Regions from separate parts of the Homo sapiens genome. Here all the other regions are linked to region 3. Evidence: fine-mapped expression QTL. A gene starts in region 3. Each other region holds a variant in brackets. All regions are shown on one strand. Distances are between the middles of the regions. Region 1 overlaps CDH4 (cadherin 4). Region 2 has its middle 160 kb from the start of LINC01718. Region 3 holds the start of CDH4-AS2 (CDH4 antisense RNA 2).

What was found. PIP is the estimated chance that this variant, and not a neighbour inherited with it, causes the effect.
Region 1: its variant is the best candidate, but not a certain one, in a credible set for the expression of CDH4-AS2 in whole blood (TOPMed, PIP 0.77).
Region 2: its variant is the best candidate, but not a certain one, in a credible set for the expression of CDH4-AS2 in whole blood (TOPMed, PIP 0.64).

What each region holds. Positions count from the first base shown.
Region 1 is chr20:61,829,745-61,835,001 of GRCh38, reverse strand. All of the region lies in intron 4 of CDH4 (cadherin 4), which reads right to left. Among named protein-coding and RNA genes, the nearest start is that of CDH4-AS1, 77 kb to the right of the region's middle. The variant C/T (reference allele first, on the strand shown) is at 2,617.
Region 2 is chr20:60,918,886-60,924,142 of GRCh38, reverse strand. No RefSeq gene overlaps it. Among named protein-coding and RNA genes, the nearest start is that of LINC01718, 160 kb to the left of the region's middle. RefSeq lists a silencer at 2,823-3,023. The variant G/A (reference allele first, on the strand shown) is at 2,905.
Region 3 is chr20:61,716,450-61,721,706 of GRCh38, reverse strand. It overlaps CDH4-AS2 (CDH4 antisense RNA 2), which reads left to right and starts at 1,959. Exons shown (of 2, transcript NR_147702.1): 1 at 1,959-2,077; 2 at 2,321-4,201. The region is part of intron 2 of CDH4 (cadherin 4); the gene reads right to left.

The DNA of each region.
Region 1 (5,257 bases), 110 kb before region 3:
GCCGGTCTGTGACGACACAGCACCAGCCTCCAGCGGTGTCTGGACAGCTGCTCAGAAGAGTGAGAGACTCTCTGAAAACTGTCTGGGGCAGATGTGAGGCGTCCAAGGAGCTCCTTGAACTTGATGGCTAACAAGAGCTGTCACTGCACAGAAGCCAGAGTGGAGGCAGCTTCTGCTTCTGACTCGGGCTAGGAATAATCCTGCCTATCAGAGAGCCACACAGCTAAAGCCAAGTCCAAAGCCGAGACGGGTTCTTTGTTGTTTCAGCCCGTGAGGCTGCGGGGATAGGCAGCGCCAAGTGTCAACCTGTAGCGCAGCGTGTTCGCCCTCAGAGGTGTCGCCCATGCCATCCCCTGATTAGTCCCTGTCATTTTCTGGCTCCAACATGAGAAGTCAGGAGTCTCGTCAGAAAACCTTCATTGATATTTAATGCACGCGTCCCCACCTGTCTCTGGAAGGTCTTGTCACACAGCGTCTACTTTCCTCTAACAGGACCTGTCTGCCCCTGTAAATGTGCCACACTGCTGGGGATACGGGAGCAGGGTCCTGTCCCTTGGGGGCCGGGCTGGAAGATGCAGGGAGCTTAGACCCTGCCTGGGCTGGAGCACAGGTGCAGGTGTAGTGGGAGCCCAAGGGGGCCAGTGTCCAGCAGAAAAGATGGAGGCCAGACCCCAGACCCCAGGCCCCAGATCCTAGGCCACAGGCCCCAGAAGGAGAGGCAGCTGAGTGAGGGGGGGCAAGGGGCAGCAAAGGAGGGCATTTAGGGGCAGCAAGGAAGCCATGAGGCTGGAGTCAGGCCCGAGAAGGAGGTTGCCGTCAGCCCTGGCTTTGCCTGCCGAGACCCACTTCTGCCAGTCTTTGGAAATCACCCCGGCCCACCCTTGCTCTGCATGGACTGTGTGGGGGAACCATCCCACCTGGCCCCAGGACAGCCATGGGACCCCACGTGGACCAATGAGAGTGCACCTCCCTGGGCACTGTGATTGGCTAGGAAGGACATGTGACCCACGCTGGGCCAATAGGAAGGAGACCTGCCAGAATGGATGTCTCCCACTCCTGCACCCTGTGCCTCCAGGCAGTGCTCCCATAGACGAAGAGGAGGGGGCGCCTCCTCACTGGCTCTTCACTTTGGGAAATGGTTTTATCTCCTCATCTGGAAATGGGATTTTTTAAATCCAGCCTGCAGAGCTGTTGCCAAGAGTATATGAAAGATGGTAACTGAGGATCTGCAGTGTCTGTAATTCGATGCTGATGGCCGAGTGCTGTGCTCAGTCACCATGGGGGCTGAGTACTGTGCTCAGTCAGTTATAAGGGCTGAGTACTGTGCTTGGTCAGTTATGAGGGCTCAGTACTGTGCTCAGTCAGTAATGAAGGCTGAGTACTCTTGCTTAGTAATGTGGGTTGAATACTGAGCTTTGTCAATAAATGAAGGCTGAATACTGATGTTTGTGAATAAATCTGGGCTTTTTGTGTTGTCAGTAATGAGGCCTGAGTACTATGCTATGTCACTAAATGTGGGCTGAATATTGGTTTAATCATTAATTTAATCAGTAATAATGCCGGAATACTATGTTTGCTGTCTCCCCCGGAGAGCTCTGCATACTAGTAGACACACAGAAAGTGCTCTGCAAACCAGAGTGGATGATTGAATGAAACAAGGGACAAGGGGCAATAAATATCTGTATATCCAGCCTGGAGGTCCCAGACCACAAGAATAAAATGATTTAATTTAGGTTTTTACTGCATGATGGCACTTTTAGGTCTCGTCCATTGGAAACGTCAGAAATCCCAATGTAACTGGCTCAAGCAAAAAGGCAATGTGCTGGCTCCTATCCTGGAGTGGTGTGGGTTTCAGGCATGGCTGGATCATGCGGGCTGAGTACTGTGTTCACTCACTCATGGGGGCTGAGTACCGTGCTCAGTCCATTATGAGGGTGACCATTCTGACGGGGCTCTCAGCACTTGCTCAGCCCACCCCTCAGACTCGCAGGTACTCTCTCCCCTTCTGCTGCCTCACACTTCTGTGCTTACATCCCATCAGCCTAGCAGCCCCAGGGGTAACAGCAATAGGCTGACATTACAATTTTGACAGTACTAGTAATAGCATCAGTGTCAGGGGCACAGAAATAAGAGGTCGTAGAACCAGTGATGATGGTAATGACAACGGATGCTTCCCTAACTAGTTTGCAGTGCCAGGCAGTACCCCAGGTGGTATGGTTAGACTTTGTGTCCCCACCCGAATCTCATCTTGAATTGTAATACCCAGGTGTTGAGAGGGAGACCTGGTGGGAGATGAATGGATCATGGGGGCAGTTCCCCCATGCAGTTCTCATGAGAGTGAGTGAGTCTCACGAGATCTGATGGTTTCATAAGTGTCTGGCGTGTCCCCTGCTCGCACTTCTCTCTCCTGCCTCCATGTGAAGAAGGTCCTTGCTTCCCCTTCGCCTTCTGCCCTGATTGTCAGTTTCTTGAGGCTTCCCAAGCCCTGTGGAACTGTGAGTCAATTAAACCTGTTTCCTTTGTAAACTATCCAGTCTTGGATAGTATCTTTACAGCAGTGTGAAAATGAACTAGTACACTAGTCACATTACATCCATCCACTCACTTACTCATCAC[C/T]ACAACCCAAGGCAGTGCCGTTAATACAGACAAGGCCATTCATATGCAGCCCTTCCCTGTTACAGATGAGGAAACTGCAGCACAGGGAGGTTGAGTCACTCACCCAAGATCACACAGCTCACAAGCCCTTGAGCTGGGATCCAGAACCCAGGTGTCCTGGCCCCAGTGCCCCTGCTCTGACCCACCAGCTCCCTGCCTCAGTAGGGAAGGTGGCTGTTTCCAGACAGCTCCGTCAAATGTCCTGGGGCAGACACTCATTGGCTCTTACCCCAGCCTTGAAGCAGCTGCCATGGCTGGAGGTTGGAATGGGTACATCTACCAGGCCTGGGTTGGCAGCAGCATCCACCCAACTTGCAGGATGAGTGGGCAAGGTGGTCTCCTGGTCAAAGGAGATGGAAGGAGGAAGTGGATGCAGGCAGGCTCCAGCCGCTCCTGCCCAGGCCCGAGGCTTCCAGCCAGTCCTACCTGTCGGGTGCCTGTGCCACATCTCATAGCCTTCTGGAAGCCATGAGCCTCTCGGCCTCTGTGGGAATGAAGGCAAATGCTGGAGAGGCTGGAGGATTCAGAATTGTGCACACCACGTGCCAGTGACACCTTCTCCCCTTAACGCTGGGAATCCCACTGCAGGGGTGGTATGTTGCGGAGAAATCCCTGTCCCCCCACCCCGCCCAGGAGCCTGGAGGGACCACATGAGGGTGTGCAGGGTGGGCCTGGGGTCCTGAGGGGGAGGAGGCTGCACTGTGGCCTGCCGGACATTTGCTTTGTTCGGCATCAAAGTTTGATGAGGACAGGGACCTGCTGCATGGTTCAGGTGAAGCATAAGACCAGAAGCTAGCGAAAAGCTGGTATTAATGGAAGGTCAGGGAGTAGCGCATTCGGGGTGTCAGGCCTGGCTGTGGCCAAGGGACTCACCCGTCCTGGAGGGGGTGCAGGCTCTACAGGTGCAGGGATTTGAGCACAGGCTCTGCTAACAGAGGCCTGGGGCTCTTCCCTCGAGACTTCACTGCTCGCTAAAATGGACAACTTTTTACAAAGAAATGGCTGCTTCTCAGTTGAAATTCAGCCTGGAAGTGGGCCAGGTCTTTGCTGGTCACCACGAGGACCCATCACCATGATTTATCCTTTTAATTGAAATTTCACTTTTATTTATCCTCAAGTGCAGGGCATGTTCCCAGTGCCAGATGTGGTCAGGGCAGCCACAGGAAGGAAGCTTTGGCCGCCTGGTCTACCAGGGACATAACGCCAGTGTGAGGCTGGTGAGGAGGCTGAGAAGATCGATTTCAAGCAAACTCCATTCACAAAAGCTCCCCCAAGAGTTGAGGGTAGCCAGTGCCTCCAGGAGGGGCGAGACCCCGGCCCTCTTTCCCAGAGTTCTTCCCTTTCCCTGCCCTCGAGGCCTTCAGAGCTCAGCTTCAAACCCCACTCCAGGAGCCCTCCCGACTGACATTTCAATTTCCTAACTGCAGCAGCGGGTTCCTGCACCATCAACAAACAGGGCATCAGGAGAGAGGAGCGGAGGTGGGCAGTTGGCAAGCTCCTGCAGCTCCGAGACTCAGCACGTGCGACCAAGAGCAAGATGTGTAGAGGCAAGAAAGGGCGCCCAGAAGCGGAAGTAAATGACCGCGGAGTGAAGCCAGCGCCGCCCGCTCCTGCCGCTCTGCAGGGCCTGCCTGCGATGGATTCTGGCCTCGGGGGAAGAACTTAATGGGTGAGGAAGGGGGACCAAGTTCATTTCAGTGTCTCTCCGGAGCACACGCTAGGGCGTCTGTTGAGGTGGGCAAGCTCAGCATGGGGGAGGCCTGGGAGGCGGGGCCGCTGCAGATCTCCTGGGGTTCCTGTCAGCCCAGCCCCACCTCACCAGCAGCAGAAACGGGGCAACCTGGGCTGGCCAGGTCCTGGGGGGCCTTGGGAGGTGGTGGCCCTGGGCCGGATGGCAGAGGCCCCGGGAGGTGTGTGCTGCCCTCCTGGATGCAGGGGGACAGGTGGAGTGTGGCAGGCGGTAGAAGCCCAGGGAGGGTCCCGGGGAAGCACGCTTAGGGCCTGCTGTCTCTGAGGCAGAGGATGTGGATGGACTTGAGTATGTTCCACGCAGGACGCTGAGCCCCAGGATGTGCCGTGCTGCGCAGGTGCAGGGATGTGGCCTCTGACAAGAGAGGACTCGCCTGCTCCCTCGGAGCCTCTGTCTAGTGAGAACAGGAGGCATGCTCAATTTCACCTGGGGGCGGGGGGCTCCAAGGAGATGGATCTGGGTCACATGAACGGGTGTGGGGGTGGGGCATGGGGGTAGAACTGCGGGAGTGGGGTTGGGGGGCAGTCCCCATGAAGGTAGGGCTGTGGGGGACAGAAAAAAAATTTAGAGATCTGGGGCCTGCAAGGGTTTCCATAGCATGTAATGGGAGTTTGGGTCGGCTTGCCAAACACACCAAACCACCCACCTGCACTTCCCACACCTGCCTCCCAGCCCCAGGGCCGGCCGGGCAGGAGCCTCGTCCCTCCCACCCCAGCAGGCTAGGGGCGGGAGGGATGAGGGAAATGAGCTTTGCCCCTGGTCCAAGGGGACTGGGGTCTGGAGGAGGGCTGCACAGACTCCCTGGGGGCAGAGCCATCAGCCCCAAAGCTGGAGGCTGAGCAAGGGTCCCAC
Region 2 (5,257 bases), 800 kb after region 3:
TAGGGCCAAAAAGGAAGAAAGTGCTTAAAACAAACAAACATACAAAATATAAAACAACATACACATTGACAAAGCTATCTCAAAAAGCACAGGAGCCAACTGAAAACTCCTAATGACCAAAGCTGAGCCAAGGAGGCCAACTAAAGGAGCAATAAAGGCATGGGTTATAACTCAACTTATAAAATAAATCTCCACTAACCTATTTTGATATAAATTAATGGTTAAATGAATGAACAAATAAATAAACAAGGAGAAAAGACAATTTTCCAATGAAGGATAATTTCAAATAATTTACACAGATACCCTGCCTTCATGAGTAGGATTCCATGAGTAGAAGCAAGACTCCTACCCCATAGGTATTAACTACACATAGTGGCTTCCTTCCATAGAGTACAGGATGGAAGCCATCCATCCATAGGGTGGATTATAGAATGGAAAGGGGGAGATAGAGTAACTTTACAACAGACAAACCTGACCATCGCTACCTCAGCCAGGTGATCAAGGCTGATGCAGGCAGGCAGTAATGTCATGCATATACTATGTACCTTTGATATGATGTGATAGGAACTCTTATTCACTGCTGTTGTGAATGCACATTGGTAAAGCTACTTTACCAGTTTCTTACAAAGCCAAAGATGTTCCTGTAATCAAGAATAGGAAAAGCACTTTACCTCTGTGGCTTTCTTCCCCCAAACCCATAACTCCAGTCTAACCATGAGAAGACATCAAACGAATTCCAATAGAGGGGTATCCTCCAAAATTGTAGTTAATGATGTATTAATATTGGTTCATTAATTGTGACAAATGTATCATGGTAATGTAAGATGTTAATTGGACAAAAAATTGGATGTGGGGTGTACACGGACCCTCTGTACTAGCTTCTAATTTTTTCTGTAAATCTAAAACTGTTCTAAAAATAAAGTCTATTATATAATTGTTCTCTGTTAGACATAGTTGAGATAGATATTGCTCAATGCCAGATATGTTTTTTTGGTAAATAAATTTTGAGTTTTATTCTTGTATCTAGCATTCATTGAATGCCTGTTTACATGCCACATGTATTTCCCAGCTCTGAGAATAGAGCAGAGAACAAGGAGACGAGGTTCTCAGGATACTCATGGTCTTTCCTTTGTGCCACTGCTCTGCATTTCTTATGACATGGAAGTTGCTTTGCCAAGTGATTTACTTGTGCCTGAATTTGTCTTACTCTCTCCTACTATAGTAGGAGTTGCACTGACAACTTCAATGGGTCATATTCAACTCCCAAATCCCAAGCCTAGTGCAGTACCTGGCAAAAAAAAAAAAAAAAAAAAAAAAAAAAAAAAAAAAAAAGCACGTAATGGATCAACACATTCCTTCTTTAATTTACCAAATTATTATTAGATTTCTATTCTGTATTACACATTGCATTAGGTCAAAACTCACGGCTGCAAGATGTTGAGGATTTCTACCAACTCCCCCCATATGGGGCAACATGCAAATACAAGAACCATCTTTGGAACAAGCTGTGGGTAAGTGTGATACCCACTAACAGTTACAGAGAGCAAGCAGTGCTTGGTAATGATCTGTGTGCAGGTAGTTCCCACAGAAGGGAACTAGGCATTCAGCATGTGCTATGCCCCCAAATGTAGTGAATGGTTTGGATAATGACATTTTACAAATAACTTGCACCAATAAGAAGAAAGATTGCACTAAATTATTAATGGTGCTCATGGAGGCAGGGAAGGGGAGGAAAAATCTCCACATATTAACTTTTCCTGCTTCTCTAATCAAGAAAGGGCTGTAGCTGAAAGGGAAGAGATGGGATTAGGGGAAGTTTATTGCAGTGTGATTCCCTGCCCCTGCCATTTTCCCCATTAATCAGCCCACGTGTCTCAAGGCTGTGACTGACTTGTGTGCTGAAAATGATTTTGTCTCTAACATATGTTCAGGTAGGCTGCTCTCCTTCCACATTCAATAAATATTTATTGAGGTGGACCACATGCAGGTATGACTCTAGGTGTGGTGGATGCATGAGGGACATTGTCCTTGCCTTCATGTAGACTGCATTCTTCTGGGGAAGCTAGAAAATGAACAAATAGGCAAACAAATGAATATTTTAACATAGTTATGTATGTTAATAATGACTTTAGACACCTTCCCATGACCACTAATTCAGCCCTCTAGCTAAAATAACAGCTCTTTCTCTGTGTGTACTCCTTCCCTGGATGGTCATTTACGTTCCCTGGATGCCTTTCAATCTCATCTCCATCCACTCTTCTACCTGATCACCAGGATCCAGGTCCACCATGACCTCCTGTCTGCCTTAAACATGCCCAACTACCCCATCTCCCACTTCAGAGTCTTCATTGCTGTAATTTGCTCTGCCCAGAATCACCTTCATCACCTCAGACCCTTCTTATTCTTTTGGTTTTGGATTAATTTCTACCTCTTTGTAAGTCTCCATTTAGGTTTTAACTCCCCTTTACTCCAGAGGTGAAAAATGCAGGCTTCTGGTGACACTGCTGTCCAGCCCACACTGAGCTGAGGGTTTATGCGGCCTCAGCACTGAGGCATGCCCAGGTGCATTCAAACTATTCTGTGAGATGATTCTTTGCACCAATCCCTGTAGGGTTCCCATTGTCTTTGGCAAAGAAGCTTGTGCATGGCACTGAGTTGGGGCCAGAACATGGTTTGTGGAGAGTGGGTCAGCACTGGGGTGGGGCAGAGGCATATAGCTGGGCCCAAATTATAGTTTCTGCAATTAGCCAGCATCAGGCAGAATGGAAATGGGGGGAGGTGGCTGGCTTTGTGGAGCTGCAGCCAGAAGGCAACTTTCAGGGCGAGCAGAAACTCAAAAGCAGGAACTGTTCTTTTACCATCGCAGAACTAACATCACGCTCCTAACAGCAGCATCCGTTCAGC[G/A]CCTCGGACAGCTCCCAGGAAGCCAACAACCTGGACAGCTATGAAAGGACTTTTCACTCCACTTTTAAAGTAGTGGCATCCACCTTGGGGATAAAATGCAGACCAGGAAGTTACAACCTACAGCCCCCCAGGAGCTCTCAGTTCCTGACATAAGTAAAATCATTCATTCATTCACTCATGGTACACTCTTTGAGAGCCTCTTAATGGGCAGGGCTCACACTTGCAGGATGCTCCTTGGGTGTGCCTGCATCTACAGTGGGAGGGACTAGGTGCAGGTGGGTAATCCTGCTCGAGACACTGCTTCATTGTAGAAGGGGAGCCTTTGGAGCAAGGGAGGTAGGCTCACCTCCCAGCTCTGCCATTTACATGCTGAATGGTCTTGATATAAAAGGAAAATGATAATAAAGACACAAAGTTAAAAAACACTTCATTCCTCCACTTTCAAGCTCATCACCATCTATGCTGCTGGATTGTTGAAAGAACGATAATTAATGCCTGTGAAGGATCTAGCACAGAGCTTGGCACCTGGACCTCACCCAGTTAACGGTGTGTGTGAGGACTGCGGAGGGCACCAGCCCCCAGAGCCTCCAGCTCATCTTGTGGAGACCACGACACAGGCCTTATTCTTGGGCACTGAACAGAAGAGAAATATTGTTTTGATTTCATTTCATGGGCAATGCCCACAGAATGTATCTGCCTTGAAAAAACAAAAACAAAACCCCCATTGCTTTCTAACCTGCTATACTGAATTCAGTGCAGCCCCTCCATGGGAAATGGCTGGTCAAGCTGGCCTGAGTTCTCAACACCACATACTTAATATACAAAGCCCGTCACACAATAGTGCCTTCCTAGGGCTCCATCCATCTTGTGAAGGCAGAAGGCTGGCAGCTTCCCCACAGTGAGACCATTGGAGGTGTTCACTGCAGTGGGTATTCCACCTTCCTTCCCTGTCAACGGCGAGTAAGAGGCTGTTTCTGCAAAGCCCCTATTCTCTTTCCTTTCATGTTCCTGTCACTGCGGAGTTTGCATGGGGGCTATTGTGTAGCACTCTAATTGTTTCCAGGAATAGGTGATGTTGCCTTAGAAAGCTAAAAACCCCACCATGTCCCCATTGAGAACTGGAGGCTCATTCCCTTTAAATATGTAAATATGTCACACCCTCTCTGTGGCGTGCACAGCCTGAAGCTCTCCAGGCTGATTGCTTAGATTTGAGGACTTTCTGACAGTTTGAGCACAGGAAACAATGAGAGGGAGAGAGAGATGGAAAAGGAGAGAGGAGGAGGGGAGAGAGAGACTGAGAGAGGGAGAGAGACTGAGAGAGAGAGAAAGAGATGGGGGGAGAGAGAGAGAGAGAGAGAGCAAGAGAGAGAGAGAGGAGAGCAGCACAGAGCAATACATTTCTCTTCCTTAAAAGAGACACCAAAGTTGACAGAACCATCCTTTCATTTCCGTATTAGACTCTCCAGAGCATTCTTATTTAGGTAGCAATCTTTTAGAAAAGATACCACTTTCCGCAAAACACACAAACACCTAATTCACTGGGGTGATATTTGCCATGGCAATTTTTTAGATAAAGAGCTATTTTGTAGAGTTCTGTGAACAAGGCATTTTTAATAGTTGTAGGCTGATCCTTTGCTGGTGGAAACATCCTCATTCCCATGGCTCCTGGCAGAATGTCTGAGCTTTTATCTGTATTTCTGTAGAACACCAGGACCAGTACTCATTCCATGAGAGTCCAAAAAAGGGAGGTCCTACGTGGTGGTGGTCAGATCATTTTGGGCATCTGAGTATCCTGAGTCAGGCAGCTTGTCTTGAAGGGCACAGGCACTGGAAGTCATAGACTTCATGGTCATAGGTGGGACCTGGATGAAGTGCATCTCCCAATTCCCTGGTGCCCCCAGAGTCTGTTTATGCTGTGGGTCTTCTGTAGCTCCTCTGTCCTACCTTTCAACCACTTCTTGCTCACATGCTCAGAAATGGAATAAGAACTTGTTCAGGCTACGTTGTCCACGGCTGACAATAAGGTGTGACCCTTCCTAGTGGATTTTTAATTTAACATGTCTTAATAAAAAACTATGGCTATTTTATTTTTATGGATAGTTTTACTGTTAAATGAAATGGTAATACAAGTCTAAGCAAAAACATTACAATCTCATTTCCTATGCTATTATACACTTAGCAAATTTCTGGTCAATATCCTTTGGTGTTTTCCTAGAATGTAAGTTTCACAAAGCATAAGACTATCTATTTTATTCACTGCTAATTCAGTGTCTAGAAATGCCTGGCACCCAGAAGGTTCTCAGACTGAACTTATTTAGTGAACGTAATGAATAAGTGAATGTGATTATTCAAT
Region 3 (5,257 bases):
TCCAGAGAAGCATATCACCAGCCCTCAACAACACTGCCCCAAGGGGAAATGTGCATGGTGCATTATGCAAATGAAGCGTTTCTCCTGAGGTAATTATCCCTGTGCAATTCTGACATGAAGTCTTGATAAAGAATTGTTTTTTAAGATAGCAGTGAAAAAGCCCAGCTAAATGCATAAAAGTTATATGACATTTTACCCTTGGGTGTAAATTATAATTTGCAGAAAGGTCAATGAACCAGAAATGATTTTTTTTCTGATGATTTAGACACTGAGAAGCAGGAGGGCTGGAGGCAGAGGGAGAGCCCCTGGTGTCCATCCTCCAGGCCGGGGTGGGCTCCTCTTCTGGAGAGGACTGTCCAGCAGCCTGGCCAACCATGCCTGGCCTTAATTCCATCCATTTCTAGTGAGTTACAGCTTCTGCTGAATGCACATTAGAAGATGGTGAAAGAAAGCTCTGGGCTTTCCTTAGAGAGCAAAGCATGCTCTCAGTGAAGGGCAGCCTCTGGACTGGACCCTTCTGGCTGCTGAGAAGAGACATACTCATCCTGGAGGCATTCAATTCACCTCCCGCTTCAGGTCACTGAGTCCCACTGTGCGCTTAGCTCCTACTCTGTGCTAGAGCTACTGGAGGGTGCAAGAGTGGCAAGCTACCTCGGGAGGAGCTCAGGGCAGGGAGCCGGGGGGACACATGGTGTGGCCTTGGAGAGCTGAACCCTCGGAACGTCGGATCTGACCAAGCACAATGCCCAGAAACCACCAGGCACTCGCCTGTAGCCAACAAGTCAGGTTTAATGACTCACTGGACCAAGGGAAGCCACCAAGCTAATGGTTACTGTCTCATGTCAAAGGGAAATAACCACCTCTACCTGGCAGGGTGTTTGAGACAATTCAATGTGATGGTACAATGAGAGAACACGCCTCCCCGACCCCTACAATCCCCAGCTTTTAGAGGCAGCTGGGAGGTTTAGCTGAATAGGGAGGAGCCTGTGTGTATCCACGGATCAGAAAATCACGCTGGAGAGAAAAGCATGCAAGCAAATACACAGAACACAGACACAAGACGATGGCTTAGGAATGGCACTCTGCACCCCTGCATGCTGCACCCCTGCACTGTACACCCCTACTCTGTACCCCTGTACTCTGCACCCCTGCACCCCTACACTCTGCACCCCATACCCCTCCACTCTGTACCCCTCCACTCTGCATCCCTGCACCCCTACACCCCTGCATTCTCCACCCCTTCACCCCTCCACTCTGCACCCCTACATCTTGCATCCCTGCACCCCTACACACTTACACTTCGCACCCCTGCACCCCTACACTCTGCACCCCTGCACGTGTCCCCTGCATCACTCTCAAGTTGCTGCCCTGCTTCCTGGTGAGTCAAGACCAAGCTGTGGAATCCGGAGCAGGATGGGGGGCCAGGAGGTGCGGCCCATAGAGCACAGAACTAAACCTGGCTGCTGCATCCTTGAGAGATGGGGAGACTTCAGCTCCTCTCACCACCAACGTTCGCCCAAAACATGAGTCAACTTACGTGAACATGCCCTCCACCCGAAGGCAGGAGGGCCCTGCAGACACACGGGCGATGCTGCCAAACAGCAGGCGGCACTCCCCAACCCCCACCGCCGACTGCCCTCCACTACCGCCTCCTTCTCCGTTACTGAGACATGGGAGGAACTTGCAAGAAGGAAGACGCCCGCTCACCCATGAGCATGGTGCAAAGTGGTAACTGCGGTGCTTAAACTCTGGGAGGGAGCACACCGCAATGTCTTATCACCTTTTCTGCTGTTCACAAAAGCAAGGTGCTTCCCCACCAGCCGCGCCTTCATCTCAACAGTCAGGGCTGCAAGGTTTATCTTAATTTAAAAAACAATTACAAGCGAAACAGAAACTGCCAGGAATTATCCACTCTTCAGAAGGAAAGAACAAAAGGAAGTGACGAGAGACAGGGCCCCATCTTGTCGTATGATATTAACACGGCTGCTCGGAAACACCTCGAGAGAGACACCAGCTTTCCCCACGCTCTTCCTTTGGTTTCTCTTCTGGGGGGACATTGGATCGCACAGCTTTGCAGGTGAGCACAGCCTAAACATAGCTCCATGCGTTTTGCATCCATAACTCTAAAGGCTTTTGTGATTTAAAGCGGCAATTATACAGAGGAACGAGATAAAGACTCCCGAGAAATTATCTCTCTTTGGGTTGGGAGGGGAAGAAAAGCCAGCGAAGGTTAATGTAGTTAGTGAAATATTTCCACAGTTATTTCACGCAAGCATTTTGCAATATTGCTAATGTTTTTGCACATTACATGCTCTTCCAGGGGAAAAACAGCTTGTGTTTTTGAAAGCAAGGAATAAAAACCTCACAGGCCTCCGTGGCTGACTCGTACCTTGGAAGATTCTGCAATGAGGCCACACGGCACAGAAATGTTCTTTTACATCCAGACACTAAACAGTGGCTTGCATCCTTCTCTGTATTAGCAATGAACAAAAACTACCAAGACTTAAAAAAAAAAATCTCTGATTAGAACCCATGGATGCTGACAATTATGTGTGGCTTTCAGATGCAAAGCCATTTGGCTGCAGGTGACATGAAGAGGCTGGGATACGATTTTGATCATTTGCTTTCGCCAGCACTTCCTATTAGCACGAGTGTGGCCAGGGAGGGTCCTTCTCTCATCACACTTAGAGCCACTCGTGATGCTGAGTGTGCTCTTTCATCTGGTGCAGGGCAGGGGGCAGGGCGAGGAGAGAAGACCCCTGCTTCACCCACTAACCAACACCCTGGGCTGGAAGAGCTCCAACAAGCAGCAGACAGAGAGTTCCATCCCCAGCCTGACAGCAGGAACAGTGAAGTCCAAGATAGAGCCAGCTGTCGCTGGGAGCCCGGGATGGTGGGTGCAGCCTCCTCCGCAGCTGGTGAGAGTGTGTGTGTGCAGGGGTGTAGGGTGGCCTGTTAGCCTAGTGTCTCCTGCACTCAAATGCCCTGTTTCAGTTGAGTAAGCTAATTCACACAGTGTCATGCAGGCTCCTCTGGCTTCGGTTCAAGTTAATGTCCCATTGAAAGGCTTCTGTTCACCTTAGGACACCCAGTCGGGTAGCCCCTGCAGCGCTCTGCCCTGTGAGCCTGTGCAGGTGGTGCTTGGCTGTGATCGAGGTTGGCCTGTTCCAGGAAGGGAAGCACGGCCTGGGATATGGGACGGCACTGTCCTGGCACTGCCTCTAACCAGCGTCAGCCTTAGCAGGCACCTGCCTCCTTCTGTGTTGGGTGTGTCCAGAGCCAGAGAGGAGCATTCCTTTTCATCACACCTGAATTATCTCCTTCAACACCCAGAGGGACCAGGCTCCCACCCTTGGCATGATCCAGGAAGAACAGTGACTCGAGTGTGGCTTGGCAGCGCCTTACAGGAGAGGCAGGGATGCCGAGAAGGGCAGGTTTGGGCTTCCCCCGGAGGCAGAGTGGGGTCTGGAAGGCAGGGCCCCTTGGACAGCATATACCCTTCACCCTGCCCTGGGGAAGGCAGCAGGACCCAGCGGCTCAGTCTTCCGGGTGGGTCCTAACCAGCCCCACCCCCACAGTGTGGGTGCTCCCTTGCCTTCTCTGGGACCAGGTCAGCGTGGCTACAGTAAAGGGCCGCATCCCTTCACAGGGGACGCTACCCACAGAGGCCAGCATTGGTAGGGTGCTGAGGATGTGATGTGTGAGGTTGTAGGGGACATCAGGGCCTTCTGTGGCACAGGCAGGACTTGACCTCAGGCGGTGGGCTCCTCGGCCTCCCTCACAGTGCCAGAGCCCACTCTCCTGTCTCCATGTCAGTCCCTTCCACTAAACTAGCCCAACACCTGGTTCACGGCTACCTGAGCACACTGGGGGCTGGGGGCGGGGGGCAGGGCGGTGATGCACACTTATTAAAACCAAGTATCAGACATGGTGGCTCACGCCTGTCATCCCAGCACGTTGGGAGGCCGAGGCCGGCAGATCACCTTAAGGTCAGGAGTTCGAGACCAGCCTGACCAACATGGTGAAAACCTGCCTCTATGAAAAATTCAAAATTATCCAGGTGTGGTGGTGTGCGCCTGTAATCCCAGCTACTCAGGGGGCTGAGGCAGGAGAATCACTTGAACCCAGGATGCAGAGGTTGCAGTGAACCAAGATCGCACCACTGCACTCCAGCTTCGGTGACAGGGCGAGACTCCATCTCAAAAAAACAAACAAACAAACAAAAAAACAACGACAAAAAACCAAAAACCAAAAACCAAAAAAACCCCACGAAATATCTGTGGGGGGAAACTGTGCTTCCAGCTGCCCAAGTGATGGGCGCCACTGCAAAGAGTCCCCGTGCTCAGAGAGCAGCAGCGTCTGTGGCTGGTCCTGCCCAGTACTGGGCCACTCTCTGTCCTGTCCACCCTGTGTTGTCACTAGCTCCCGGTGGCATGGTGCTCATGGCCCTGTGGCTGTCCTGGGCTGCTCCCGCTCCCCTGCCTTTGTCCTGTGACAGCAGCAGCAGTGGGGACAAGTCAAGGGGGACTTGGTGCATGTTGAGTGCTTTACTCATCTCTGCCAAGCAGGAGGAGCTGCTCCTGCCACCCTGCCCTGACGCCCTGCCCTGCTCATGGCCCAGCATGCTGAGGAGCAGGGATGGGAAGAAGCTGCTGGCACTGGCAGCCAGTGGGCCATGACGAGGGTGCAGAGGGTTTCCTCTACCTGGTGAATGCCTGCCCAAGAACCACATTCCACAGCCTCAAGGTCAGTTATACATCAAGGACCTTGGATTTTATTTATTATTTATTTATTTTTTTGAGATAGAGGCTCACTCTGTTGCCCAGGCTCGAGTACAGTGGTGGGATCTCAGCTCCCTGCAACCTCTGCCTCCCAGGTTTGAGCAATTCTCCTGCTTCAGCCTCCTTAGTAGCTGGGATTACAGGCACCCACCAAACACCTAGCTAATTTTTGTATTTTTAGTAGAGATGGGGTTTCACCATGTTGGCCAGGCTGGTCTCAAACTCCTGACTTCAGATGATCCTCCTGCCTCGGCCTCCCAAAGTGCTGGGATTACAGGTGTGAACACCACACTTGATCCAACCTCAGCTATTAGATGAAGCGAAGGGCTTTGGTGAGTCTTTCTTTGCGGGACACAAGCCTGCACTATTCTGTAGACAAGCCCATGGGGATTACCTTAGTGGGTGCCTGTGGACAGGTGAAAAGCAGCACTCAGACCTCCAGTGAGGATGGGACACTTCCTCCTGCTGGGTCCTGC